4 linked regions of the Homo sapiens genome follow. The protein of the gene in region 1 interacts with the protein of each later gene in a pairwise test. Each region holds a gene or a part of one and is shown on either strand. Other genes may lie near its edges. The genes, in order: OPRM1, PMP22, VAPA and SEC22A.

The links.
Region 2: the proteins of OPRM1 (region 1) and PMP22 interact in binary tests that used the Homo sapiens proteins (3 or more experiments, as listed by UniProt).
Region 3: the proteins of OPRM1 (region 1) and VAPA interact in binary tests that used the Homo sapiens proteins (3 or more experiments, as listed by UniProt).
Region 4: the proteins of OPRM1 (region 1) and SEC22A interact in binary tests that used the Homo sapiens proteins (3 or more experiments, as listed by UniProt).

The regions. Positions count from the first base shown.
Region 1 is NC_000006.12:154,084,215-154,091,240, forward strand, and holds part of OPRM1 (mu-type opioid receptor), read left to right. Parts: intron 1-2,292; exon of another isoform or gene 2,293-3,590; intron 3,591-5,547; exon of another isoform or gene 5,548-5,611; coding exon 5,612-5,964; intron 5,965-6,737; coding exon 6,738-7,026. UniProt on the Homo sapiens protein: Receptor for endogenous opioids such as beta-endorphin and endomorphin. Receptor for natural and synthetic opioids including morphine, heroin, DAMGO, fentanyl, etorphine, buprenorphin and methadone.
Region 2 is NC_000017.11:15,262,327-15,269,716, reverse strand, and holds the start of PMP22 (peripheral myelin protein 22), read left to right. Parts: upstream 1-4,390; 5' UTR 4,391-4,563; intron 4,564-7,164; exon of another isoform or gene 7,165-7,292; intron 7,293-7,390. UniProt on the Homo sapiens protein: Might be involved in growth regulation, and in myelinization in the peripheral nervous system.
Region 3 is NC_000018.10:9,910,085-9,917,037, forward strand, and holds the start of VAPA (vesicle-associated membrane protein-associated protein A), read left to right. Parts: upstream 1-3,931; 5' UTR 3,932-4,172; coding exon 4,173-4,251; intron 4,252-4,519; exon of another isoform or gene 4,520-4,981; intron 4,982-6,953. UniProt on the Homo sapiens protein: Endoplasmic reticulum (ER)-anchored protein that mediates the formation of contact sites between the ER and endosomes via interaction with FFAT motif-containing proteins such as STARD3 or WDR44.
Region 4 is NC_000003.12:123,204,943-123,211,968, forward strand, and holds part of SEC22A (vesicle-trafficking protein SEC22a), read left to right. Parts: intron 1-1,358; exon of another isoform or gene 1,359-2,165; intron 2,166-3,878; exon of another isoform or gene 3,879-3,995; intron 3,996-4,256; 5' UTR 4,257-4,275; coding exon 4,276-4,457; intron 4,458-7,026. UniProt on the Homo sapiens protein: May be involved in vesicle transport between the ER and the Golgi complex.

The sequences.
Region 1 (7,026 bases):
AAATAAATGTAAATTAAATGTTTCACAACATTTTATAGCAAAGTGAGAAGTCCTCCATTCTCCCCTTCACTAAGCTAGTGGAGAATATAATACAAAATAGCAACCTAATATATAGTCTTTCTCCATGTTAATGCCAATGAGAGGATAATCACTAGTTTTGATTATGCTTTTTCTTATTTTAGAACCTCCCCCCCCAACAGACAGACAGACACACACACACACACTCACAAGTAAAAACGCACCTGGGATATCAGAATGGAATAGATGGATAATAATGGATCAATTAACTCAGGTAGATACTCATTTGACCATATTCTTTGCCTAAATAATTACTTGAAATGTAGGAAAGTATCTTTATCTCATTGGATTGATCCAATTAAATATGAGTATTAAAGTATGACACTCTAGGGAGGATTTTTTTCTCGACTAAAAAGGTTAATTTCTATGTGAGGGTAAGTGGACATAAAAGTCATGGCAAATGCAAGAAATATATCTTTCCAAGCACATTGCTGAACATATAAAAGGGGCTTGTTGAATTCTTACTGAATTAGGTATCTTTCTTCACACTACTTGGTAAAAAAAATGAAAAGGCAGAAAAATTAGCCCCAAAAGAGATGAAACTCTTCCGTCCATCACCATTGACTCTATTGTGAACTTATGAAAAAGGTAGTTGAGCAATATGAAGGCCATGATGTGGAATTAAACACACACACACACACACACACACACACACACACATGCTGGATTCTAAAATGTGTCCTTCCTCCTCTCACTCTCTTGATCAGTTTTATTTCTGAACTGAGACACGATCACCACAATTCAAATAATTAACCACAAAACTAAACAGAAGTTTACAAAACCCATCAGGTGTACAGAGGTAATTTATTTAGTCTGGCTTCACTTAACACAAATAGGTCAAAAGCAATCACATTTTGTAAGTAGTAATAGTTGGAGAAATGTGTGAAGAATAGGTCAAAAGATAAATAAGAATTATTTTATAACCATAAGAAAGGAAGAACATCTATAAACAAAAGTCATATATGCAACATAAAAGAATAGGTGAGCTGCCAGCAAATGGGCCTCACAATGCCTTTTCCCCAACACTTCTGGAAGTTCCATAAAAATCACTCTAATGGGTCAAACATCGATGGTTCTCAGAAGAACACAATTTTTTTCAAAAACGAATAGCATTGTAAATTCATTTGAATTCATAAAACAAAAGAGCTATTTAATCATCTAGACCAAAGTTAAAGAAATACCTACTACAAAAATTTTAATGGGATAATTAGAAAGAAATAGCTTGGGCCACTGCTTCGAGCAGAAGATGGAGTTCAGTGGCTACCATAGGAAGGGTCAATATCAGGATGGCCTGTGAGTCCAGATGAGTCTCTCTTTGCCCATTTTGCCACAGAACACATTCACAGCACAGTACAAAGCAGTAGGCATGGAGTAAGGAAAAAGGCTTGTGTTTTAATAGCCAGGAGTTCTACTCGGACCCACTCAGGTAAACTGAATGGCAAAGATAATTCTTCCTGCAGGTCATTTCTTTTGCTAGTTTGCTAACTCTGAGTCCTATGCTCCTGTGCAAGGCCCATGATGTGACTCTGAGCATTCATTGAACTTTGCTGGGACAACATTCATGCCACCACATCAGAACAGAATGAAAGCTTGCCCTTTTTTTTTTTTTTTTTGAGACAGTGTCTCTCTCTGTTGCTCAGGCTGGAATGCAGTGGTACGATTCTCCTGCCTCAGCCTCCCAAGTAGCTGGGATTGCAGGTGCCTGCCACCACCCCCAGCTAATTTTTCTAATTTTAGTAGAGACAGGGTTGACCAGGCTGGTCTCCTTCCCCTGCCCTCAAGTGATCCATTCACCTCAGCCTCCCAAAGTGCTGGGATTATAGGCTTGAGCCACCAGGCCCAGCCCACATTACTCCTTTTCTGATTAGACCATCTCTTCAGATTAAAGCCTTTGGGTATATGCTGGAGGCAATTGGAATTCTTAATCCTTTAGCTTTGTATAATTTTCTTTCACATATTTAGAAGATCGTTGAGCCCCCTTTTATATGTTGCTGTGATCCAAAGCATGAGTAACTGGGGTAAGAATGCTGGCTATCTTTAGAGGAAGACTTTTTAAATAAATTGAGAAAAATTAAACAGCATCATTCCTATAAAATGCCCGTTGAAAGAATTTTTATAGATAAATATTCACTTTTTTTTGGTAAATTGATGATAAAATTATGTATATTTACCATATACAACATGATGTTTTGAAATGTATACACATTGTGGAATGGCTAGCATGCTAATTAACTATGCATAACCACGTTTCCTTTCACCATGTTGAACCCTGACATAATTTTTTTTTCCACAAACACCTCACTCTGGAGAAGGAAATGATTTTTTTTAATTAAAATAAACATACATTGGAAATACTTAGTGCTAAAATAAGCCTGAAGGAAAGGTTGGAAGTATGATGAGTCAGAAAACTGACTGTAAAGAAACCAATTACTTAACATAAAACACCATTAAAGATAAGCCACGAAATGTAAGGTCTGCTGGGTAGGAAAGTGGCAAATGCAATGAAGCATGTCTTTAGATCATGCAGGTCTATAACCAACGGTGAATCTAGCAAAAGTTATTTTCTCTTTTGGGGAGAAACTTCTTCTTATTAAAAAAATAAAAAATGTTTCAACTTCTTGAGCACCAAGGTCAATTATTCTAAATCTTAAAACCACAGTTTTAATTTTGCTTTTTTGTTGGTTTTTGTACTTTGGAGTATTTGTCTACATTATCCTTTTTATATTTGCCATATTTAAAGTCCAAACTAAAAGCAAATTATTTTCTCTCCTCAAGTTAAATGGCTCTATCTTTTTCTTTAAAATCCATTAAGAAAGTGAAACTCCCAAAGTAAGTCCAAAAAAAAGCCCCCAAGTCTGAAAATGTGGAGCTTTTCTGGCAGTAATGCAGCTTCTGCAAGTATTGCAGACCAGATCAGGTATCAGAATTTTAAAGCTTCAGTAACAAAGCTGTCCTATTGACCCTGAGGAGATTTATGAAATCACTTTCCTGATGTTATTGAAACCAAAACACTTTCCTGGACACTGAATTCAGTCCTAAACAAAGGGCCTCCAACCAACAGCTGTCTTGGGCTGAATGAGTTAGACTCAACCTCGTGTGACGGAAAAACAGTAAACACAAGCTAACATTTAAAAGGAATTGATGGCACCGTGTAAATCAGAAGCCCAAGGAGGGCCTGGCTTCAGGTGTGGGGTTCTCTCTCACGCTCTCAAATCCACATCCTCCGGATTAGGTCCATTTTCAGACAAGCTCCTCCAGCAACTACATACCATGCGTCTTCTCAGGTGTGGGTCCTGCAGGAAAACTAATACACTCTTTGTCCATAAGTCTCAAAATAAACTCTCACTGGCTCTGGTTGGAACATGAGAGCATCCTTGCCATTCACCATGGCCCCGGTCACTAAACGTCTTCACGCCCTGGACTGGTAATACAGCCTATCCCAAAGCACCTGGACTGAGAACGGGAAATGAGTGGTTCCCAGAGTGAAACTGAGGTACTATTACTAAATTAAGGTAAATATATGTGGAATGTTAAAAAAAAAATGATGTCCAATGTTTACAAGGTATACTTCTGCCATCAGATATAATGTATTATTGCAAGTGTACCTGCTTATATTCTACTATCATATTTCTAATTTCTGCAGGCCTTGAAAACATATAACACTCCTAGATACTTACCCAGGAGGAAGAAAAGCATATGTTTATATAAAGACTTGCACATGAATGTTCGTAACAGTTCATTTGTAACATCCAAAAGTTGTATGCAACTCAGTTCCCATTAATAGGTGAATGGATTAAAAAAAAAAACAGATGAATGCATAAGTAATACTACTTGTCAATAACAAGGAATTAATTCTTGTTATATGCAACCACATAGATGAATCTCAAAATAATGACACTGAGTGAAAGAAGCAGCACAAAAAAAGAGTACATACTGAATGATTCTATTTGCATCTTCTAGGAAATGCAAACTAATCTATAAGAACAGAAAGCAAACCAAGATCAGCAATTGCCTGAGGAATAGTGAGGGTTGGATATGAGGACAGGGAGGGGCAAACAGGAAAGATTAAAGAGCTACACAAAGACACTTTTGGGAGCAATTGATGTCATTATCTTCATCAGAGGTTGACATTTTTTTCTGTAAAGTGCAAGATAGTAAATAACTTAGGCTTTGCATGTCATCTGATCTCTGTTGCAATTATTGAACTTTGCCATTGTAGCATCAAAACACTTATGGGTTTTTAAATAGGTGTATTTATTTATAAAACAGGCAACGGTCCAATTGGGTCTACACACCATAGTTTGCCAATCTCTGATCTTAATTATGGTGGTGGTTTCACAGGTGTACACACGTATCAAAGCTTATCAAATTGTATACTTTAATTATGCGTTATTTATTATAGGTCAATTCCACCTCAATAAAGCATTAAAAAATAAAAACAAAGCAAACACACTTGGGTTCCTCATCATGGATTGGATAGAGTCTAATCTTACCATGGCATACAAGTTCTTCATGTACTGGCCTCTCTTCTTCCCCAGTCAGATCCCTTGCCATTCCCTGGTAGAATGTGCTTGACACACACATCAGGCCATTCCAACTCTACATCTTTGTTGGGGTTCTCTCTGTTACCTCTCTGTCTAGAATGACCTGCTCCTACCAAGTGTCTAACTCAATCATCCTGCTTGTGCTTTGAGATTAAACTTGCACTTCCAGGATGCCTTCCACATCTTACTCCTACTATTCCCTTTGCCTTATGCTCTGTGAGATGCCTCATCTCTGTGCCCCATAATCGCCTGTGTGTTTGTATGTGCATGTGTTTGTGTACATACCTATAGACACTTGCACAATTATACTTCTTGATAATTTTAACTATATTTATATAGCTAAAATTTTCTCTTTTATATTTAGAATTACTATCCAGTCGCTGCCCCTACTATTTGACTGGAATCTCCCTCTTTCTATTAGACCTATCACAATGACTGACACATTACAAAAAAAAAAATTAAAACCCTCACTGCGTGTGGTGTCTCATGCCTGTAACACAAACACTTTGGGAGGCCGAGGAGGGAGGACTGCTTGAGCCCAAGAGTTCAAGACCACCCTAAGCAACATGTCAAGACCCTGTCCCTACAAAAGTTTTTTAAAATTAACAGGGTATGGTGGCATGCACCTGGGATCCCAGTTATTCAGGAGGTGAGGCAAGAGGATCTCTTGAGTCCAGGAGGTTAAAGCTGTAGTGAGCTCTGTTCATACCATTACACTCCAGCCTGGGTAACAGGGCAAGATCCTATCCAAAAAAAAAAAAAAAGGAAGAAACTCAACAAAGCAGCATCGTTGCTATTATTGCAGCTATTTAGCCAATAGGTACATCATTGACATCATTGTAAATAGCCAAGCTGATACTGGAAAACAATTCTATATCTAATCTCAAAAAAGCTTTCTACTAATTCATGCAAATTTATTATTGGAAGCTTACCTATATTTTACACTAGTGTCTTTTACTGATTCTCACTCTTCTTCCTTTATCTCCTAGATACACCAAGATGAAGACTGCCACCAACATCTACATTTTCAACCTTGCTCTGGCAGATGCCTTAGCCACCAGTACCCTGCCCTTCCAGAGTGTGAATTACCTAATGGGAACATGGCCATTTGGAACCATCCTTTGCAAGATAGTGATCTCCATAGATTACTATAACATGTTCACCAGCATATTCACCCTCTGCACCATGAGTGTTGATCGATACATTGCAGTCTGCCACCCTGTCAAGGCCTTAGATTTCCGTACTCCCCGAAATGCCAAAATTATCAATGTCTGCAACTGGATCCTCTCTTCAGCCATTGGTCTTCCTGTAATGTTCATGGCTACAACAAAATACAGGCAAGGTGAGTGATGTTACCAGCCTGAGGGAAGGAGGGTTCACAGCCTGATATGTTGGTGATGTCATAAGCAAAGCAGTATTTATGGAGTGCCCCATTGTCTTAGTCACATTGTAATTTTAATTATTCTTCCTAGCAAAAAAAGCCTTTGAATACTTAAAAATAGGAATTTTCCTCATAATTTTAGGCCTATTAAATCCTTTAAAGAGAATGTAATCTATTTATTTCTGATTTCTCTGTATTTACTTCATAAAAATGGTGTGTAAATTAGTACATAGCTCTCCCAAGAGTAATTGGAGCTTAAACCCAAAGAGTATTACACTGAGGCTTGTTTAAAATTATCAAGTGGCTGACTACATGGCAAATGTATCTTTCTACACCTAATATCAGAATATTGAACAATCCATCAAAAAATGAAGTGAAAACATCCATTACCTGGAGCCGCCTAGAGACTTTGGACAATTATTACATTTTTTATATCAATATAGACCTCATGGAGGATCTAGCTCATGTTGAGAGGTTCATTTTTGTTCCCTGAACGAAAGCTTAATGTGATCGAAGTGGACTGCAAAATGGGAAATTTAGAAAAAAACAAAAAACATTAGAAGTAAAACTTTCTTTGAAAAGTAACAAACAACTGAGTTTCTTCCACAATTTCTTTATAGCCTTAAGTTAGCTCTGGTCAAGGCTAAAAATGAATGAGCAAAATGGCAGTATTAACACCTTATGACATAATTAAATGTTGCTGCTAATTTTTCCTTTAAATTCCTTTCTTCTAGGTTCCATAGATTGTACACTAACATTCTCTCATCCAACCTGGTACTGGGAAAACCTGCTGAAGATCTGTGTTTTCATCTTCGCCTTCATTATGCCAGTGCTCATCATTACCGTGTGCTATGGACTGATGATCTTGCGCCTCAAGAGTGTCCGCATGCTCTCTGGCTCCAAAGAAAAGGACAGGAATCTTCGAAGGATCACCAGGATGGTGCTGGTGGTGGTGGCTGTGTTCATCGTCTGCTGGACTCCCATTCACATTTACGTCATCATTAAAGCCTTGGTTACAATCCC
Region 2 (7,390 bases), on another chromosome or scaffold:
CCATTTCTTGGTGTGGCTTCGACTGCCTGAAGCAGGCATTTCCTTGGGTTACATGGGCCTTCCTGTGCACCTCTCTCAATAAGGACAATCTCTCACATCAAGCCAAGGCTGCTTTTCTCGACATTTCTATGCCTGGTCTGCAGTGGCCTAGAAAATCCCTGCATTCCTCCCCATTCCGTCCATTCCCGTGTGGCAAGATTGCTCTGCTTCCCCATTTTATTTGAACCTATGCCCTACTGGAGCAGAAGCATTTTCACTTAGGAGTAAACAGTCTTAGAAAAGTTTTAGAGTTTGCAATCCCAAGTACACATCCATTTCTGACTCTTGCTTAAATTGCTCCCCAATCCTCTAGCTGCTAACTCATGAGATGTCAGAGAAAAGACTGCTTTCCCCCCTCCACTTGCATCTGTGGAATCTGGCTTTCCTAAGCAACAATGCATTTGTGAACAGAGAATCCTTTGTACTTGGTCTGGTCCCACTGCCACAACATAATAATTCTGTGACTTCTCTCTCCCACAGGTGAAGGAGTTAATATACAATTTACTCCAAGATACCTTTCTATATTTTAAAGATGTCATTTAGGGAACAGTCCTGTGCCAATGTGAGTTTTTTTTTGTGTGTGTCTTTATGTTGCTTTCTGACTGCGTCTGTGTTGTTCATAAAGAATATCTTCTAGGGATTGGGACCTGTCATAATTTCAAACTTGCTTATTTGTAGAAGATTCTGTCACAGAAGTCAAACTGGCTCCTTCTGTTCCTTTTCTTCTCCCTTCTCCTTCTCTTCCCTCCCCTCTTCCTATCTATATCTCCCTCCCTCCCTCTCTCCTTCCATCTTTCCTTCCTTCCTTCCTTCCTCCCTCCCTCCCTCTTTCCTTCCTTCCTTCCTTCCTTCCCCTCTGCCTTCTTTCCCTGCCTTGCTTGTTCTTTCAACAAGCTGCTCTCACTCGACATCAAAACAGTCTAGCTGAGTCTAGATGAGGCAGGACTGACTTTTGAGGACCCTTCCAGGCCAGCTGTGTCCAGGGCTGGCCAAGAACTCCCACACAGGCTGCTGGCTATGAGGACACAGGAAAGACTTCATTCTTAGTGTAAACACTTTTCAGATATTGACTGAGCACCTGGTGGGATAGATGCTGCAACAACAACTTCATCACCTGGACAAACACCAAATTCAGACTTGCCTCTGGTTTTCTCTCTGGGGAGCCTGCACAGTGAAAAAATTACAGGTTTGGGAGTCAGAGGAATGGACTTTTTTAAGCCCCAGCCCTGGCATTCACTAGCTAGTCCCTGGAGGAAACACTGTAAATTTTCCAAGCCTCAGTTTCTTCACATAGAAAATGATTATAATGATTCCTCTTAAATAAGATACTGCCATATGTTAACAGCATTTTATTAGCTATAAAGTGCGGAAGGGTTTCCTCCCTCTTCAAGAGTCTGCTGGGATTCCACTGTCATGGACAACATTTCATTCTTATGAAATTAAAATCTCACCTACAGGCAGGATTCTGCCAGTGCTTATGCTATACAGACATATGGAATGCAAATGTCCTCGGAGGAGCACACAGCCTTGTTGGCAGGATGAGACAGGATTCTTGAAAGCTGTACTAAATGTGACTGGTGCTGAAAAAAAAATGGATGTCTTAGGATATGTTCTTGCTTTTTAATGGAAAAAGAAACGTGAATGCATAAATATGTATAATGTGAGAATATCTTTCATACAAATAGGACATTAAATGATAGTGTCTATGGAAGCATGATGAGAAGATATGCTAGGAACGTGCTGGGCACAATTAGGGGCACGGTAGAATGTGAGATAGTCCAGGCTGTGAGTACGGGATCTGTAGCCAGAATGCCTGGTTGGAATCCAGCCTCTGTCATTTCTTTGCAGTGTGTCTTGAGAAAGTGACTGAACATCTCGCTGTGCCTCAGTTTCTCCCTCTTCTAAAAGAGGATGATGGGGTGCCTATTTCATACGGTTGTGAGGATTAAGTGATTTGATGCATATAAAATATTCAAGATGGTGCCTGGCATATGCTAAACACGAAGTAAATATAACCTATTATCATCATTATCAAGGACTTGCGGATAACTGATGCTACTGAGCCGATGGAGCGTGGTGTAGCAGAACAGCTCAGGTGCTAGAAATAGCCAGTCTCATTGACTCAACTGTGTTTCCTCAGAGAATCCCGATTCTCATTTTTCCTATCTGTAAATGGAAGGGAGGATAGCAAATAATAATAAATGTTATTTGGTGACTATTCTATGTGTTTATTTTGCAAGAGGCTCAGTGGGATATAGCCTACAGCTTTGCAGAGACATTGCTCAACACAGATGCATGGGATAGGGGTCCCATTTGGCTGAGAAAAGGTTATTGGAAATGGGAGACGAGGAAGGAGTTTTCCTCACCTGACTCTGGGAAGGGAAGAGAGTCTGGCCCAGATGGGTAAAGACAAGTGTGTTGGCATCTGGTAGACAGGGCCAGTGGCACACAACAGTGAACAGCTCTACTGCTGACAGCCAACAGGGACTTCGGGGTTTGGCTGCTGGAGATGGAGGACCTGGGCAAAAGAGACGTGAGGCCAAGAGAGCAGGTCTCAGAATGTGGAGCTCATGGAAGGAGAGAGGGAGGGCTAATCAGACTGCTCCTATCTGGCCAGAAGCCATGCCCCACACTCACCAGGCCCTACCCCTTTTCCTCTGAATCTTTAGCTCTTAGATCAGAAATAATCTTACGTGTCTTCAGGCTTGATCCTGGCCTGACGGACAGCAGCCTCTGTCGTGTAGCCTTTGGAGCTGATCATGGCAGTACCCAGGAAAAGACTGTCTGGAGAGGCTGCAAAAACCATGCTCACTGTTCCCAGTCCCCGTACAGACCATGTCAGAGGAGGACTGAGGGAGGCTCCTCTCTCTCTCTCTCTGTCACACACACGCACACGCGCACACACACACACACAGATACACGCGCACACACACACACCGTTTTGCCTGGCAGAACAGACTTATAACTTGCATAATACTGCAGCAGCCCACACTGTACCTCATCTCCATTTGGGTTCCACAACAGAAGGGAGCTGGAAGGAAATCAGCGACAATCTAACTCCACATGACAACCTGGCTGGACAACGAAACATCCAGCGGGGAGAAAGACACTGGAAATTACCCATACCTGAGCCCCATCCCAAAACACCTGAGTCAGCTTCTCTGACCATGGCCCAGGCTAGGTCATTTGCAAAGCTCTTGAGTGATTCTAAAGAACCACTGCTGTGAAAAATAAAAATGATTTCAGCAAAGAGAGAAAGGTGAAACTATTTTATTGGCACTGGCTGTGATGCTGGCTGTGAGCAGATGCTGGCTGTGGGCAGAACAGGGGAGAGGGCCATTGAGAGGCCCTTGTGACTGGAGAGTCCAATCAAACGTAAAGTGTGTGACAGGGAGGGACTCCTCCAAATTCTGCAGGTCTCTCCAGACTGGGGATCCCTAACACAAGAGGAAGTCTTATGCCCCAAGTGCCAGAATTCCAGGAAACTCATGCAATGAAACCAGTCCTCTTGTGTCAGAGTTTGCAGCTAGAAGCGGTTCAAGGGATGGAGGACTCTCTGGGAGCTGGAGTGGTACGCTGCAAAGAACCTAAATATGCCATAACTTCCTTTACTTCCCTCTCCAAGAATTTCCAATTGCTCTTCCAGCCTATTCTGCCTGACAGGTTAGAAAGTTTTCAATAGTTTTCAATAGAGGTTCGTTTACTTGCATTGAATTATCTCATGAAGGTCAGCTTGATTCGGGCACATTAAAGACAGAGTCGGAAGAACACATTTCCCTAAGTTTTATTCTAATGTACAACACATGTGATCATTTGCGATGGGGTCTAGGCAGACAAGGCAGGTAACAGGGAGTCCTTCCAACCAGGGGTTGGAACAAAGGAGGCTTGATTTGGTGACTCTTGAGACATTTGGCTCACTGCTGTGATGCTGTGAGAGATTAGCTGTGCAATGTTTGGGCTCCTTAAAAGGAAGTTTATTTAAAATAAAACTTACCTGCACGTATGTAACACTGTAGACACAGATCCTTCCCACAGTATATTTAATCTCTGCAGAATTCACTGGGAGGGGAGGGGAGCCAGTGGGACCTCTTGGCTATTACACAGGTTGGCACTTCCAGAGAGAACAGTCTTGGCATCACAGGCTTCAGGCATACTCAAAGCTCTTCTCCCTTCTGATTCCAGTTTCTCCATGCCCTGCAGGGCCTCTTGGGATTATTGTATTCTGGAAAGCAAACAAAGTTGGACACTGTCTCTTTAAATAATAGAGGCTGAGAACCTCTCAGGCCACCATGACATATCCCAGCATTGGACCAGCCCCTGAATAAACTGGAAAGACGCCTGGTCTGGCTTCAGTTACAGGGAGCACCACCAGGGAACATCTCGGGGAGCCTGGTTGGAAGCTGCAGGCTTAGTCTGTCGGCTGCGGGTCTCTGACTGCCCTGTGGGGAGGGTCTTGCCTTAACATCCCTTGCATTTGGCTGCAAAGAAATCTGCTTGGAAGAAGGGGTTACGCTGTTTGGCCGGGTGAGTTTTATTGGCAAACTGTGCCTCTGGGTGATGTGTGCCTATGCTTTACAAGAATTGCCTAATTTCCCACCCCCTGCAAGCCGCAAATGAAAAGGATTGCAGGAGAGATGGTGCATTTGTGTTGGAATTGACTGGAGATTCAGAGGGCTTTTTATATCCTTGGTTAAAAGGTGGATATATACTCTGGCTGGGGAGGTGGGGGGCCATCTGAGAGCATCTAGAAACCCTAATGCATCCAGATTGAAAGGAAGAAAGGAATCTAGATGCTTTTTCCCCCATGGAAAATAGCTGTGCACACACAGCTGGCAGGTGGCCTTGGTAAGCAGGTTAGGGAGAAGCTGCCACCTGTGGCAGAGCCTTGGCCAGCCGGGCTCTGGGTGTGGCAAGCCTGGTCAGCAGGCACTGAGTAGCACTTCCTCTGCCACCATTGAGAACCAGGCAGGAGGCCAGAGGCAGTGAGGGACAGATGGGTTGGGTTTACCTGTCTGGCAGTATATGGTGTGGCTGTGACCTGGGTGGTTATTGATTAAACTATTGGGTTCAAAAGAAAGGAAGAAGCGAGCTGTAGCACCCAATATATGCACTTTTCTGTATGTGTATTAGACTTTATTAAAAAGTTTATTTGAAAATCACAAAGGAAGGGAAAGAAAACCCTGAGTTAGATATGCTCATATTTCTAAAGTGCTTACTTAGAACAGTCCTGAGTATGTTGTGATCACATAAGTGTTGGTTAAATAAATAAATGTCCAAATGGCATAAAACAAAGTAATAATTTCTAGAGCAAATCTAACTTATAAAATGACCTGTGGAGGAAAGAAAACACTGCCATGTCTTTAGACTTTTTTTTCTACTTGCATATGCACTTTCATTTATAAATCTTTATCTATCTATCTATATCTATCTATCTATCTATCTATCTACCTACCTACCTACCTACCTATCAGAGTTACAAGCTACTTTAGTGCAGAGGTGGTCAGGTCTTCCCTGAAAGGTTGATGTGAGAGTTAAATGTGATATAATAATAGTGGTGGCAATTTGGGCACTGGGCCCTTATTATGTTGCAGACACGATGTTAACTGCTTTGTACATATTGTCTCCTTCAATCACCACCATAAACCTTTAAAGCAGGCATTACTATTTCCTTTTGCACCTGAGAAAACTGAAGCTCAGTGAACTTGAGAAATTGCCCAAATTCACAACAAAAGTAAGCAGGGTGATTAGGTTTGTTGGAGCCCAGAGCCAGAGTGCCTAACCACTGCACCATACTGCCTCTCACAGACCATGCATATAAAGTCCAGGCAAAGTGCTTGGCATATAACGGGCACTGTAAATGCAGTGTTTACAAGTACACTTCATTTTAATCTGATAACACGATAGTTTTAAAAAGATCATTGTTTGAAGATCTTTTTCAAATTTATTTTTACTTACCGTAAGAATATACAATTAGCTAAAATAGCAGCTCCTTTCAAATCGTAAAATAATATAGAATTATTTGAATCATTGAGAGTGATGAGCTTCTATGACACAGTACACTAGAGGTAGGGAAGTGTGTGTGTGTGTGTGTGTGCGCGCGCGTGCGTGAACTGCTGCATTTTCAGGCAGAAACCTTTAACATCCACATTCCTGCTCCCTGTCCCGTGCCTCAAGGCTGGCCTGCGCACGGGAGTCTCAGTTGGGCGCGCCTCTGCCAAGCCGAGACTGAAGGGGGCTAGCCTCTCTCCCTGTAACGCTGGGCGGGCCACGTTAGGAGGCTATGAATCAGCTGATTTCCTTGGCTGCTCCAACCCCACCTCAAATGGCCACCTCGCACCCGCCCGCCAAACCCCATGGCCAGGACTCCAGCCAAGGCTGACAGCCAAGCCCGACTGCTGCAGGAACACTTTGCCTAGAGCTTATTCGGTGGTAGTCTGGTTTTGCCTAGGCTAGGAGGAGCCCAATCCCAGACCATGCTATCCAGTAGTCGGCCGGACTTTTCTTCCCCTAATTCGCACCCAAGAGGAGCCCGCTAGATCAATCCCCGCCAATCCTAGGAAGCTGGCATGCTTCGTAGGTGCAGACAGTAATAGCGGGGACCGGCGCGGGGCAGGTGTGTCCGGCTAAGACGCCAGGACAGGGCAGGGGCTCCAGGACCCGAGAGGAGAGGGACTTCTTCCAGCGCTCAAGCGCCCGCTGCCCTCTATTAGTGGGAAAGGAATCCAGCCTCAGCCCCGCGCGGGCGCGGTCGGCGTCGGCGGGCCCAGAAGCCCAGCCCTGGGCATCCGCTGAGCTACATTTGGCTGGGTCTTCCCAGAGTGGGCTGAGGAGCCAGTTTCTCGGTCAACACTAGGTCTCCACGGGGCCAGGGGAGAAGGGAGGTGGGAGGTGAGAAAGCTCAGCCGCCTCTGGTTTCGAGTAAAAGTCGCCGCGGTTTTGCAGGGACCGACTTTTTCTTGAGGCGCATTTAAGGCCAAGTGACTGTCTCCTGCCCTCCCTCTCTCCTGCCCCCTCTCCTCCCTGAGTCCCGCCCTCCCGCACACGCTGACCCAGGGACACACCCTACTGCAGCGACGCAAACAGGGCGTTGTTCCCGTTAAAGGGGAACGCCAGGAGCCTCCCACTGCCCCCTTGCTTCGCGCGCGCGCAGCCCCGCAGCGCAGCTTTGGCGGCGCCAGCAGCGGAGCCAACGCACCCGAGTTTGTGTTTGAGGCCACCCTGAGGATCGGGACAGCTGTTCCTTTGGGCTGTAAGTGATTTGGTGGGGAGAGTGAAGGAGATGGAGGAGAAATGTGGGCATCTTCCAGTGAGGGTGCCAGAAAGCGCAGCGCAGGCGCGGGGCTTTGGCCAG
Region 3 (6,953 bases), on another chromosome or scaffold:
AGTACCTGCCACAGTGCTGGGCACACAGCAGTAATTTAACATTTAATATTAATAAGGTAACAGTGCTGGAATCAGGCACTATTATAAGCTCTTCATGTGTAGGAACTCATTGAATCCTGGTAACAAACCCAGAATGTAGGTATTCTTCTTCTTCTCATTTTACAGATGTAAAACAGGCACAGAGAGGTGGAGTGAGCTGCAAAGATCACACAGTGGAAAATGGAACTTGAACCTAGCAGTCTAGATTCAAAGCCTGTATTTTACTTTACTGCCTCAATATTTATGGAAAGCATGCCTGTTTAAATGTTCACTGAAGTCAATAACTCAGAGAATTGCTCATAAACAAATTCATAATTATAGAGCACCTCTACTGTAAAGTTTAACATGTTTAACTATGGAGAAGTAGAGGGGTATAAGTACTTTGATACTATCCGTACTGAAAACAAAAAAAAATCTTTGCCAAGTCCATAAGAGAGAACTTGTCCAAAGGTGAATACTATTAGTGATTCAAATAGGTTGAAATAATATTCAAAGCCTTTGTACTTCTTAGACTCATGAAAATTTGGTTGCTTGATATGCTGGAGTGTATATATTTGCTAATACTTTAAGGCCTTTCTGTGCTGCATTAGCCAATCTAAAAAGAGCAAACAAAATGAACATAGGTCACATGGTTCATTATTCCTAGCTTAAATGTTAAACAATAGAGAAGTCAATGACATTTTAAATTGTGGGTTGTCATTTTATTGCGGCTTTGGGAAGAGCAAAAATGCACAGAATAGAACATTGGGCAATGTCCCCTGCCCATAGCTGAGCTCTATTACTAAGATGAGATGCTGTCATCTGTGTTTTCATTTCCACATTTAACAACAAAAGCGGCACTTGCCAACTGTCATGAAGTTGTTCTGAGTAGGGTGTGATGATGTTTGTAAAGTTTGTAGTGCTGGAAGAAAAGTACTAATAAATACCAAAGCACAAACCACTTAAATAGTGCACAATTCGATGTGAAGTAGAAGATTCAAAATGACTCAGTGATTATTAATCTAATGCTCTAAAATACGAATAGGGGATTAATCCCAAGATGTTTCACATATTCTTAGAATATTAGAATTTTAAATTCTTATATGTTTTAAGACTATACCTACATGATTTTTGAAGCAATATTGAGAAGTGAAAAAACAGTTGATTCCAACGACAGATGACTCAAATGGGCAGAGATTTCTTAATAATATAGACTGGGAAACTAGAATACATCCAATTCAGGCTTCCCATTAAATCTATAGTGAATGGGCGATCATTCATCCTCCCATAGGGGAGTTACTGGGAATTTCCTCCGCATGCTATTCTGCTAGTTGACTATTTGCACATGGGGGCTTCCCAAATGGTTTCCGGTAAGAGAAGTGTGCTTCCTGCTATGGAGGGACTGGATCAGCCTAGGCTAGCTGGCCCATGGAAGAGAGTTCTTAGGCCGGCAAAAAACTGGAGTTTGTGAGGGCCTTTAGGGTTGTCAATTCACAACTAAACCTATGTGGGACACTATCCTTTGGACTGATTGTCACTTTTAGCTTTTTTTTTTTCTTAAACAAAAACAAAACTTGAACCCCCATTTTAATAAACAATTTTTTTTGTATTCTACCTTAATGATAATTGACATCTCAAAATAAATTTTGTGAATAGGAAGAAATCACAGTAAAGGTAAATTTAGAATATGCTTCAAACTACTTAAGCACTCTATCCTCCTGCATCCGGAGTTGATTCCTTCCAGTGGGTTCCTGGTCTTGCTGACTTCAAAAATGAAGCCCCGGACCTTCACGGTGAATGTTACAGCTCTTAAAGATGGCACAAACCCAGGCCAGGCGTGGTGGCTCATGCCTGTAATCCCAACACTTTGGGAGGCCAAGGCGGGTGGATCACTAGGTCAGTCCTGTAATCCCAGCACTTTGGGAGGCCAAGGCGGGTGAATCATGAGGTCAGGAGATCGAGACCATCCTGGTTAACACGGTGAAACCCCACCTCTACTAAAAATATAAAAAAATTAGCTGGGCATGGAGACAGGCGCCTGTAGTCCCAGCTACTCAGGTGGCTGAGGCAGGAGAATGGCGTGAACCTGGGAGGCGGAGCTTGCAGTGAGCTGAGATCACGCCACTGCACTCTAGCCTGGGGGACAGAGCGAGACTCCCTCTCAAAAAAAAAAAAAAAAAAAAAGAAAGAAAGAAATGATGGCACAAACCCAAAGACTGAGCAGCAGCAAGATTTATTGTGAAGAGCAAAAGAACAAAGCTTCCACAATGTGGAAAAGGACCCAAGCAGGCTGCCCCTGCAGGCTGGGGTGGCCAGTTTTTATTGGCTTATTTGTCCCTGCCCATGCCCTGCTGATTGGTCCATTTTACAGAGTGCTGATTGGTCCATTTTACAAACCTCTAGCTACCTACAGAGTGCTGATAGGTGCGTTTTTACAGAGCACTGATTGGTGCATTTTACAAAACTCTAGCTAGCTACAGAGTGCTGATTGGTGCATTTTACAATCCTCTTGTAAGAAAAGTTCTCCAAGTCCCCACCCAACCCAGAAATCCAGCTGGCTTCACCTCTCACTCCCAGGAATTTCAGGGCTGAAAACACATTCCTCGTGGGTGGCACAATCTTCTGTGAATGCCAGGCTAGCAATTCCAGCAGGCTGTTCCTGGATGGACCCTAATACCTGGATCGCACATGAAAACTTGGATTTGGTGCCTACTTCTAGACTGCTGTTTCGTCTCGTTTATTTTCTAGACAAACTGTGCTGCTCCATGGCAGTAGCATCAATATGTCTTTTGTTTCGTGGCGCTACCTAGGGATTTAAATTCAAACCGTATCACAAAATACAATAAAGGTTTATTTACAGCACATTGGTTTCATTTGACGTTCCTGTACCGGACTACCCTGGCAATCGGCTAAAGTTTTGTCAGCAAGTTTGCTGCTGGGATTTTTCTTATTTGGTTCAGTTTACTACAGCCTATCGTAAGTGATGCAGATGGAGTTAGTTTCTAACATGTGAACGTGAGAACTGTTTTGGTTTGGGTCCATCATTAAAACTGAAGAAGATTATTTGGGTTCGATGGTGTAGATTTTTGACTTTTATTTCTAGTTTCTGTGTGCTTTGTCATATTTCCCCTTGCTTCCTAGACGAGGTGTGTTTCCTTATCTGATTTTGCATCACTGGAGAGAACTCAGGAAGCAGGAGAGGCTGAATTGGATACCACGGGGAATGCAGCCCTGCCAACAGAGGACTGGATAGAATTAGAGCAAACGGACACATCCCCCCACGCCTGTTCTCCACAGGGCAGATTTTATTAATATATTTCTAACATTGGGGCCTCGTTTCAGTCTTCAAGTTTTTTCTTTTTTAGCGCAAACTAGACGCGCTCTGAGAGCCAAAATTAGCGTCCGCGAACCCCACCCCATTGCCTCCAACAGACCTAGCTCTCCTTTCCACCCTCAAACAGCCGTTACTACAGTTCCCAGCAAGCACCGCGCAGGGCCGCAAAGGGCCAGGCCCTCGGCGAAGGCCCCGCCCCGCAGGGGGCATGCCGGGAGTTGTAGTGAGTGGGCGCTTCCCTACTACTACTTGTCCCTTCCACTGGGCATTCCCACTTGGAAGAGTGTGATGCGCTGCCAGAGCAGTTTCTCTAGTTCCGTACTCGGAGCTCAAGGTGACAGAGGACTGCGCTTCCAGCCCTGCGCTGCGCATCGCGTCGGTCCCGCGGACCTTTGCCCCGCCTCCTTCCACACCCGTTCCCTTGACAGCTGGGCTGCGCTCCGGGCCGCGGCAAGCCGCGAGCGCGCAGGCGCAGCAGCCCCGCGCCGCGCTAGGCCGGCCTGGAGGGCGGGACAAGCGCTAGAAGCTCCCGGCCGGGGGCGCGCACGTAGGCACGCAGAGGCCGTCACGTGGGTCGCCGAGGCTCGCAAGTGCGCGTGGCCGTGGCGGCTGGTGTGGGGTTGAGTCAGTTGTGGGACCCGGAGCTGCTGACCCAGCGGGTGGCCCACCGAACCGGTGACACAGCGGCAGGCGTTAGGGCTCGGGAGCCGCGAGCCTGGCCTCGTCCTAGAGCTCGGCCGAGCCGTCGCCGCCGTCGTCCCCCGCCCCCAGTCAGCAAACCGCCGCCGCGGGCGCGCCCCCGCTCTGCGCTGTCTCTCCGATGGCGTCCGCCTCAGGGGCCATGGCGAAGCACGAGCAGATCCTGGTCCTCGATCCGCCCACAGACCTCAAATTCAAAGGTAGGCAGAACGGGGACACCCCCGGGTGGGGTGGGGCGCGCGGACCGCTGGCTGTCGGCGGGGGGGCGCGGAGGGCACGTCCGCGGCCCTGGCCCGAGGGAGCGCCCCCTCCCCCACGCCCCGGCGCCTTCCCTTTCCCGGCTGCTTTCTTGCCGCCACCTCGGCCGGCCTGCCCCTTGCTCCGGCCCGCTTCATCCCCTCCCGCCCGCCCTCGCTGCGGTGCGCGCGCCGGCCGGGGCGAGGCGGAGGGGAGCCCGGCCCTGGCGCCGCCGCCGCCGCCATCTTGCGGTCCCGCGGGGGCGCCTCCTGGGCGTCCGGTCCCGCCCGCGCCGCGGTCCGCCTGGGCCCGCGTCCTTGGCCCCAGAGGCCGACGGCGTGCTTCGGCGGGGCGTGGGCGGCTGGGCACCCGAGGGCGTGCGCTCTGGGCTGCGGCGGGGAGTGGGCTCTGGAGGTGGCGCAAGCTGCGTCTGTCGCCCGCTCCCGGCTGTCAGCGGCGCGGGGAGGCTAGGGCACGGCGCGGGACCCCTTGGGAGTGAGAGCCGCCCCCCGACCCCTGCCCCGGCCCGGGGAGAGCTCGCTGCAGCCGGCCCTCGGGTTCCGCGGAGGGCGTCGCTTGTCACCTTTCCGCCAGGTTTAGAACTCGGCCGTCAGGTGTAGGACGCGCCGGGGAGGTGGAGAGTCCTTGGAGGTGCCTGGCGAGGGCTGCCCGGTGCTGTTGGCACGGACCCAGGTGCGTGCGGGCAGGAGCGATGCGTCAGCCGCAAACGGAGAGTTGTAGGTTCATAGTAGCGGGGCTTCCTGCCTTCTACGACATTTCAGTGTGCCACCCGCGTGCTTTTATTTAGCCCTTTAGTTGAGCTCCTCTGCTGAGAAACCTTCAGTGCGTGTGACTTTTTTGCTTTTACGTTTGCGGTTTCCGACAGATCCTGAGAAGGCTGATAAGGTGTCACCCAGCTCTGGAACTTTGTAGGTTTTTGTAGTACTGCCTGTGATAAGTTTTTTAGTCTGACTTGGTGATCCTGGAAGAATCCCAGGGGCTTTTGGTCGGTTTCCTTGTCAATATGTAGTGTACTTTAGGAAAGAGAGTTAAAATGTACAGATTTTTATTTTTTTTCTTTGTTTTTAAGGAATACTGAAAGAGTGTGAACATCTAATAGAAAGTAGGTTCCTTCCTATCTTTAGTTAAGTGTAAAGTGAGTCCCGTTTTGGAAGTCTATGTCTTGTATTTCAATTGTTGAATGAGAACAATTTTTGTGAGGTGTATAGCAATTCTAGTGCTAAAAGAAAAAATTAAATCCTTTATTGTTGTGTAAGGCTGAGTCCAAGAGAAAGCCAACTACATTGTTTTCCATAGGAAAAACTTCAGGTTTAGGAATTTAAAATATATTCTGGAATTATGAGATTAATATTGCATAACTACATTGCAAGCTTTTTAGTGCGTTTACAAATTTCTTTGAATAGAAGTGTAAGTGAGCTACTTGTTGGGTAAGGATTTGGTTTTAAGGTGCAGTGAATGTATTTTATTGCAAGTTTATGTAAGTTGTGTGATTTTTACGTAGTTGTAGCTGGGGGAAAACCTTTGAGGAATTATGAAGAGTCCTGACTCAGCCATTATCTTGAGATAATTTAATGTAAATCTGTATGGTGTGTTTTTTTTTAATATTTCGTTTTTATCTTTTGATTGGCTGTGTTTACAGTGAACATTTCCTCTACTGGATAACTATGTGTAAATTGCCATTAGGGATTTATAAGCCTTTACAACCAGTTTTAGGCCAGGAAATGTCCACAGAGTTTGAAGTTTTCTCCTTAGGGAAGTTGTTATGTTGCTATAGTAAGGGAGTAATAATAGTGGAGAAGCAAGTTTAAAAAACAAGCAAAAGCCCTACACAGTGACTTACTCATATATTTCCTTTTTTGGGGGTGTTGGAGAATTACAGCTATGATTATAGAACTCATTGTTTTTGTGTTGCCAGTAAAAATAAGACTAGCCAGGGAAGCAGAAAAGGTGTGTAGATGGTATAACAGAGACACAACCGTGTCTGAGGAAAGAAGCCCTTTCTCTATGTGCCCCATCCCTCCCTTAGGAAGCATTTAAGGAAAAGGCTTGTTTTTCATTTCAGGGGAGGTTTAGGCCAAGAGAGTGGTTGAGTAAACACACTGCTGTGAGAGAATGCCTGGTACTTAAATGCCCAATAGTTTGTTGTGTGTTTCAGTTTAAAGATGGAGATGATGGGGAGGATTGGGAGGTGACATTTGGTGTTTGATTCCTTAATATTATCGTTTTAGTCAAAGGTAAATTGTTGGCTTTGATGGAAACCTTTGTGTATTTAAATGCACAGTTCAACACTGAGGAGATTCATTTAGAATGTACAGTCTACTTGGGCTTAGTTTATGATAGAAAAAAATCATTTAACTGACTTACCCTAAGTCATTCAAAACTTTCTAAGTGAAGGACTTTTAGAAGACAGTTTTGCAAAATTCTTTGTCATCTTCTAGTAGGTTTATTTTAGTTATTGATTCTGAGTTTGAGATGGTTTCTCCAGGAGTGACTCAGGTAATCATTCTGAGATTGGATGGTTTTTCTTTTATACACCTAACAAGCATCTTGAAGATGAATTAACAGTATGTTGCACAATTTTGCAAAAGCAGACACCAACTATTTCAGTACATTTTTCTGTATACCTCAGTATTTAAAAAAAAGT
Region 4 (7,026 bases), on another chromosome or scaffold:
TTCCCAACCACAACCCTCCTTAAGACCTTAAAGATACTTTAACCTAGCTTAGGCCTGACATGGACAGATTTCCTTTTCTGCTAGCACAGTCCAGATAAGATTAGTTTAAAAAAAAACAAACTATATTATGAATCCGTGGTAAAAAGAAAAAAAGTAGGGGTATGTTTATTGAATTGATGGAGAGACAGCTTAGCCTAAGGTGGTTGGAATCTGTCTACAAATTAGTTAAGCCTGACGTTGATCATTGGACATTCATCCCCGTTTGTCAGGCTTAAATTCAAGTGCTTTGGATGCTGAATCAAATTACTGTGGTAGAAAGAGGTTTAATTTTTTCCCTAAGAAAAATCTTATCTATGGATAAGTAGAAACCATTCTCTGACAACCTTGTAATAATTTTGACAGGGAATGTAACTACTGTGTTCTGCTTTTGGTTAAAGGCTAAAGTACATATTAGGAAAATTTGAGGCTGGGCGCAGTGGCTCACACCTGTAATCCCAGCACTTTGTGAGGCCGACGCAGGTGGATCACTTGAGGTCAGAATTTGAGACCAGCCTGGCCAACACAGTTAAGCCCCATCTCTACTAAAAATACAAAAATTAGCCAGGCATGGTGGCGGGCACCTGTAATCCCAGCTACTTGGCAGGATGAGGCAGGGGAATCGCTTGAACCTGGGAGGCAGAGGTTGCAGTGAGCCATTGCACTCCAGCCTGGGCAACAGAGTGAGACCCTGTTTCAAAACAAAACAAAACAAAACAAAAAAACAACAAAAAAAGGAGTATTTGAAATGTAAGTTTGTCCAACTTTAGTTTTCCAGTTAGTGAAGTGGTGGGCAACACACCTGCATTGTTTGCTCTTTTCAACTGAGTTTCTCTAATTGAGGAGTGATGTTTCTTGATGGTAGGACTCTTCATTCCTGCTATCTGGCATAATTCATGGGACACATTAGATATTCAGTAAATGTTTGGTAAACGAATGGAACTTACAAATTGTATTCTTTTTACAGTATGTGTTTTAGAAAGCATGGATCATATATTTATTGATCTGTCCTCCAAGTCACTAAAGAATAACTTTGAAGACTACATGAAATTTGGCAACCTATTAATGAAGTCTATTCATAATATTTCTATTAGGATCCTAGAGAGGCCAGACATAAAATAATACAGTCTACTTTTATTTTACTTTTTGAGACAGGATCTCTCTCATCACCCAGGTTGGACTGCAGTGGCACAATCATAGCTCACCATTGCCTTGAACTCCTGGGCCTGCTTCAGCCTCCCCAAAGCAAGTACTATAGGCGTGTGCCACCATGCCCAGCTGATTTTTAATTTTTTTTATAGAGACAGAGCCTCACCATGTTTCTAGGTTGGTCTTGAACTCCTGGCCTCAAGCAGTGTTGGGATTATGGGTATAAGCCATGGCACCCCATCCAATCTGCTTTTAAATACTAAAATGTGGGTATTTAGAACTGCAAGTTACAACTCACCCTCAAATTAATTCCCAGAATGGTTATTGTGTTGCAGTGTACTTCTGGAAAGACAACAGTTTTATAGTTAAATAATAAACGCTTAAGGGGATAGAGTAAGACATTTTCCTACTTTCTTACACTTAGGCTAAATGTTACAATTGTGATTTAATAATTAAGTAAAACATGGTAAAAAAAAAATTAAAGAGGGGTTTATAGTATAGATATCTCTTCAGGGATCCCAACTTTTTCATGCTACTGCTTTTAGGAGAGAAAAAAACTAGATGAATGGAAAAAAACACCAATTGGGATATGTCACACTGGGACTTCAGTTTGAAGACTCCACTGTAGTAAAAAGACTAATTTGCTTCTGGATATTTTTCTCTTTAAATGAATGGAGAGGCTGGGCGTGGTAGCTCATGCCTGTAATCCTAGTACTTTGGGAGGCTGAGGTGGACAGATCACTTCAGGCCAGGAGTTTGAGACCAGCCTGGCCAACATGGCGAAACCTCATCTCTACTGAAAATACAAAAATGAGCTGGGTGTTGTGGCGCATGCCTGTAATCCTAGCTACTCGCGAGGCTGAGGCATGAGAATTGCTTGAATCTGGGAGGTGGAGGTTGCAGTGAACTGAGATCGCACCACTACACTCGTCTGGGTGACACAGTGAGACCCTGTCTCTGAAGGAGAAAAATATTAAAGGGTAATGACACAGTAACACCTAGAGATTTCTCCTTTTTCCTCATGAAAAGAGGAAAAAGGGATAGTGAACTTAATGCATTAGATTTATTAGTTGGGTTAATTTTTATTGTCAGATCAGTTATCACCATGAATGGGAAGTCATATTTTGACTTCACACAGCAGTGAAAACTATCAGCTCCTGATTTACAAGCTTTGTAACAACTGGTTTTCTGTGGTATTTTTTTTTATATATATTACTCATTTTTTCCTTTTTGGAATGAGATAATATTGACCTAGATTAAGTGGGCAGGTAAGGATTAATTTAGTCTCTAAGATACAATATTTTTGGAAAAATGCCTGTGAGATTTTTATCAGATTTTTGAATTTTCACCAGTTGCCTCACCACTAGTGAGGAAGCCTTTAGTGACATTGTGCTTTGATGGCCTGACAGAGAAGAGTTATCACTTAATCTTAGATAGTGAACATGTTTTAATTTAATGTTTTAAAAAGTATGGGCCTTAGACAATAAGCAAATTGTCAAGCCCTATCCCACAGTCAGTGGTTCAGAATTTTGAGGGCAGAGCTCAGAAATCTGCATTTTTAACTAAACTTTCAACTTCTTATGCAAGCTAAAGTTTGAGAGCCACTGTGTATTTTATGAAAGGTTGAGTGACTGTTGACCTGAGTTCCTTCAGACTCAGGCCTGTGAAGTCCTTTCATCTGTTTTTGTAAAGCAAGAAGAGAATCCAATAAAATAGGCCATTAAGATTTACTTTCTGGTAAAAAGATTGAGAACAACATTAAAACCAATATTCCTTTAGCTTTAGGATTTATTTTAAATAATTTTTTTCTGATTATAAAAGTAGTATATGTCTACTGTGAATATTGAGAACATTTAGGAAATTATAAAATAATAATAACCAATAATACCATTTCTTAGAGGTGAGCATATTCTTAATTTGGCATCTTTTTCTGCATCCGTTTTTCAATCCCTTTTTCCTTCTCTTTATCTTCGTCTCTTTATCCTTATGTTTGTGTAAAACAACATTTGCAATTTTTATCCTACTTTTTTCTCCTTAACATGTAAGCATTTTACCACATTATTAAACTTTCTCCACAAACATAACTTTTAGTTGCTGCATTATATTCTGTTATATGAATATACTATAATTTACTTAACCATCACCATTTTATAGGATATTTAGATTGCTTTCAGTTATTTGAGTGGAAGAATGTCTTTCTGTTTAAAATTTTGCCTGGATTTCTGATTATTTTTCTCAAGACAGGTATATATTTAAATTTATTGAGGTTAAAAGGTATGCCTTCAGACTCTTGTTGAAATTGCCAAATCATTTTGAGAACTGTTTGTACCAGTTTTTACTTCCATCTGTACTTATGAGAATGCCAGACAGAAGTATTATTTTTTAAAAAGCTAATGTGGCTGGGTGTGGTGGCTCATGCCTGTAATCCCAGCACTGTGGCAGGCGCCTATAGTCCCAGCCACATCCTATGCTGTGGCATGGGAACCCAGGCTGAGGCATGAGAATTGCTTGAACCCTGGATGGGGGATGTTGCAGTCAGCCAAGATGGCGCCACTGCACTCCAGCCTGGGTGACAGAGCAAGATGCTGTCTCAAAAAAAAAAACAAAAAACAAAAAACAAAAGCTATATGTTAAGTGAAGCATAGTATGTTGTTTTAATTAGTTTTTTGTTTTTTTTTTCCTCCTGAGACGGAGTCTCACTCTGTCGCCCAGGCTGGAGCTCAGTGACGCGATTTCGGCTCACTGCAACCTCTGCCTCCCGGGTTCAAGCAATTCTCCTGCCTCGGCCTCCTGAGTAGCTGGGATTACAGGTGTGCACCACCACGCCTGGCTAATTTTTGTATTTTTAGTAGAGAAGGGGTTTCATCATGTTGGCCAGGCTGGTCTCAAACTCCTGATCTTGTGATCCACCCTCCTCAGCCACCCAAAGTGCTGGGATTACAGGTGTGAGCCACCACACCTGGCCATTTTAATTACTATTCTTATATTACTAGTAAGTTGAACATTTTTACATATGCTTATCAAGTTTGGCTTTAATTTTTATGTAACCCAAATTGTTCATTTTGTTTTAGGTCTTCTCTGTTGGTTGAAATGTCTATGATTTTATCTGCCTCAGTCATTCGTGTCAGAGATGGACTGCCACTTTCTGCTTCTACTGATTATGAACAAAGCACAGGAATGCAGGAGTGCAGAAAGTATTTTAAAATGCTTTCGAGGAAACTTGCTCAACTTCCTGATAGATGTACACTGAAAACTGGACATTATAACATTAAGTAAGACTTCAGTTTGCTTCATTTGACTCATTTGCCCAGTAGTTGTCATTTTAATGAAGTTTAAGTGGTTGCAATAGAAAGGAGTGATTAGGAAAACCTGTTCAAGTCGAGCATCATATTGTTCTGAACTTATACTAAATAGTCATCATGTCAGCAGCAGCCTTTTTGTAGTTTCTTTGTATCTGGCTCTGGGAAATTTTATAGTTGTGCAGATCATAGATATCCCTCTTTTAAGTTGATCACTAAATATTTATTTGCATTCTTACATACCTAGGGTTGTAGTAAGCAAACTATAATTGGAAATAAAAATTTTTTACCTGATATCTGCCCTCAAAGAACTGAAGCAACTTACGTCTAGTGGGAGGGGGTAGCACTTATCACTGAGTCACATACAAATCAAGTAAAACTGGGCAATGGGATAGAGAGTGACTATTTATTGTGGTCAAGACACTCTCTGAGAGGGTGACATTTGAGCAGAGACCTAAAAGATGAGAGAGGAGGTAATTATATGAAGGATGCTGTGGATGAAGAGCAAGGCAGAGGTAGCAGCCAGTGGAGAAGCCCTTTTTTACATGCCAAGAGACAGAAAGAAAACCAGTGATCCTGAAGAATTATGGACAATTAATAGAGTTGCAGAAAGTGAGGCCAGAAAGGTAGGAATGGGGCAAGTTATGTAGTGAGTTTGGAGTCTATTAGTCTGTTTAGTCTAATGCAGTAGGAAGCCATTGGGTAGTTTTAAGCTATAGAGTTACATGATTTCATTTGGCTTAGAGTAGATCATTCTGCCTGCACTGTGAAGAATAAAGGAGGAAGTGGAAGCAGAGAGGTCAGATGGAAGACTCAGAGAAGTTCAGGTGGAGGTGCTGATTGTAACGAGCTAGGGTAGTAATGAATAGAAGTAGTTAGATTGGGGCTATATTTTGGGATTAATACCAGCAAATCTTCCTACTGGATTGAAATAGGATGTGAAGGTAAAAGAAGAATAATCACCTGTAGTTTTTTGGCCTGAGGAACTGGATGAATAATGTAGCTGAAATGAGCAAGAAAGGAGAGGATAAGTGCGTCTCCTTGGTAAAAAGTAAGAGTTCTGTTTGGACATGTTAAATCTGAGATGCCCATTAGACATCCAAGGGGCACTGCTAGGTAAGCAGCTGGATATATGAGTCTGAAGCTTAGTGAAGAGGACAAGTATAGACATTTAGATTTGGAAGTCAGCTTACAGTTTGTGATTAAAACCATGGGAATGGATGAGACCACCTTGGAAAGCTTAGACGTGAAACAATTAGAGAACAATTAATGTCTGATATCAAGCTGGATATTGATTATGCATACAGAAGGAAATAAGGTAAAAACACAGTCCATATAGGATATAATAAGCAGAGGGCTTCGTTGTTGAGATGAGACATGAGCCATGTCCTGAAGAATTAATAAGAGTTGGCTAAGGCAGGGAGGAGGGCATTCCAGGTGTACGGAGGAGAGGCAGAATAAGCAAAGAATGTGACTTAGCATGGTAGGTGTATTAACATGCTTATCCTGGGTCAGTGGATGGTGATTTATGGATAGTTGTGAGACATGCGTGATAATCATTGTGGGGCCAGATCCTGGATCGCCCTGAAAGTTCAGATTGAAGGACGTGACTTTGATGTAATATGTTATAGGAAGCTGTGCTGCAGGTTCAAGGGAAGTGACTTGATAAAAACAATCCTGAGACAGTGGAACTTAGGGTGAGTGGACAGTCCAAGAGGAGAGAGATAAGGCAGAGAGGCCAACTTATTAGGGCCTGAAGTAAGAAAATAAACGTGCAAATGAAAATTAGAACACCAAAAGAACTAGAATGATAATGAGAAATAGTTTGATTGGGGATCACTTTGAAGTTGGATCACTTCAAAAGAAGTGACCAAGCTGGATAGGATGGAATACCAGAGATGAAAAGAAGGAAGGGGCAAAGATGACTGAAGCCTTGGAATTGGACAGAATGTTGGTGTCATTGCCAGAAATGAGATCTTTGGAACAGACTGTTTATGAGGTGTGAGGCAGAAGAGAAAGATAATGAAGCTCCATTTTGATCATTTTTTTAAGACACTGGGGCTTGCTCTGTTACCTAGGCTGGAATGCAGTGGCATGATGACAGCTCACTGAGCCTCAACCTCTTGGACTCAAGTGATCCTCCCACTTCAGCCTCTTGAGTAGCTGGGACTACAGGTGCACACCACCACACCCAGCTAATTTTTTTATTTTTAGTAGGGATGAGGTCTCACCATGTTGCCTAGGTTGACCTCAAACACCTGGGCTCAAGTGATCCTCCTGCTTGGCCTCCCAAAGTACTGGGATTACAGACATGAGCCACTGCACCTGGCCCACTTTAATTATTTAACTTGAGGTTTTAGGCCAAGCACAGTGGCTCACACCTGTAATCTCAGCACTTTGAGAGGCCGAGGCAGGCAGATCACTTGAGCCCAGGAGTTTGAGATCAGCATGGGCAACATGGGGAGACCCTGTCTCTACAAAAAACTAAAAAATTAGCCAGGCGTGACATAGTCCCAGCTACTGTGGCGACATACGTGGGAGG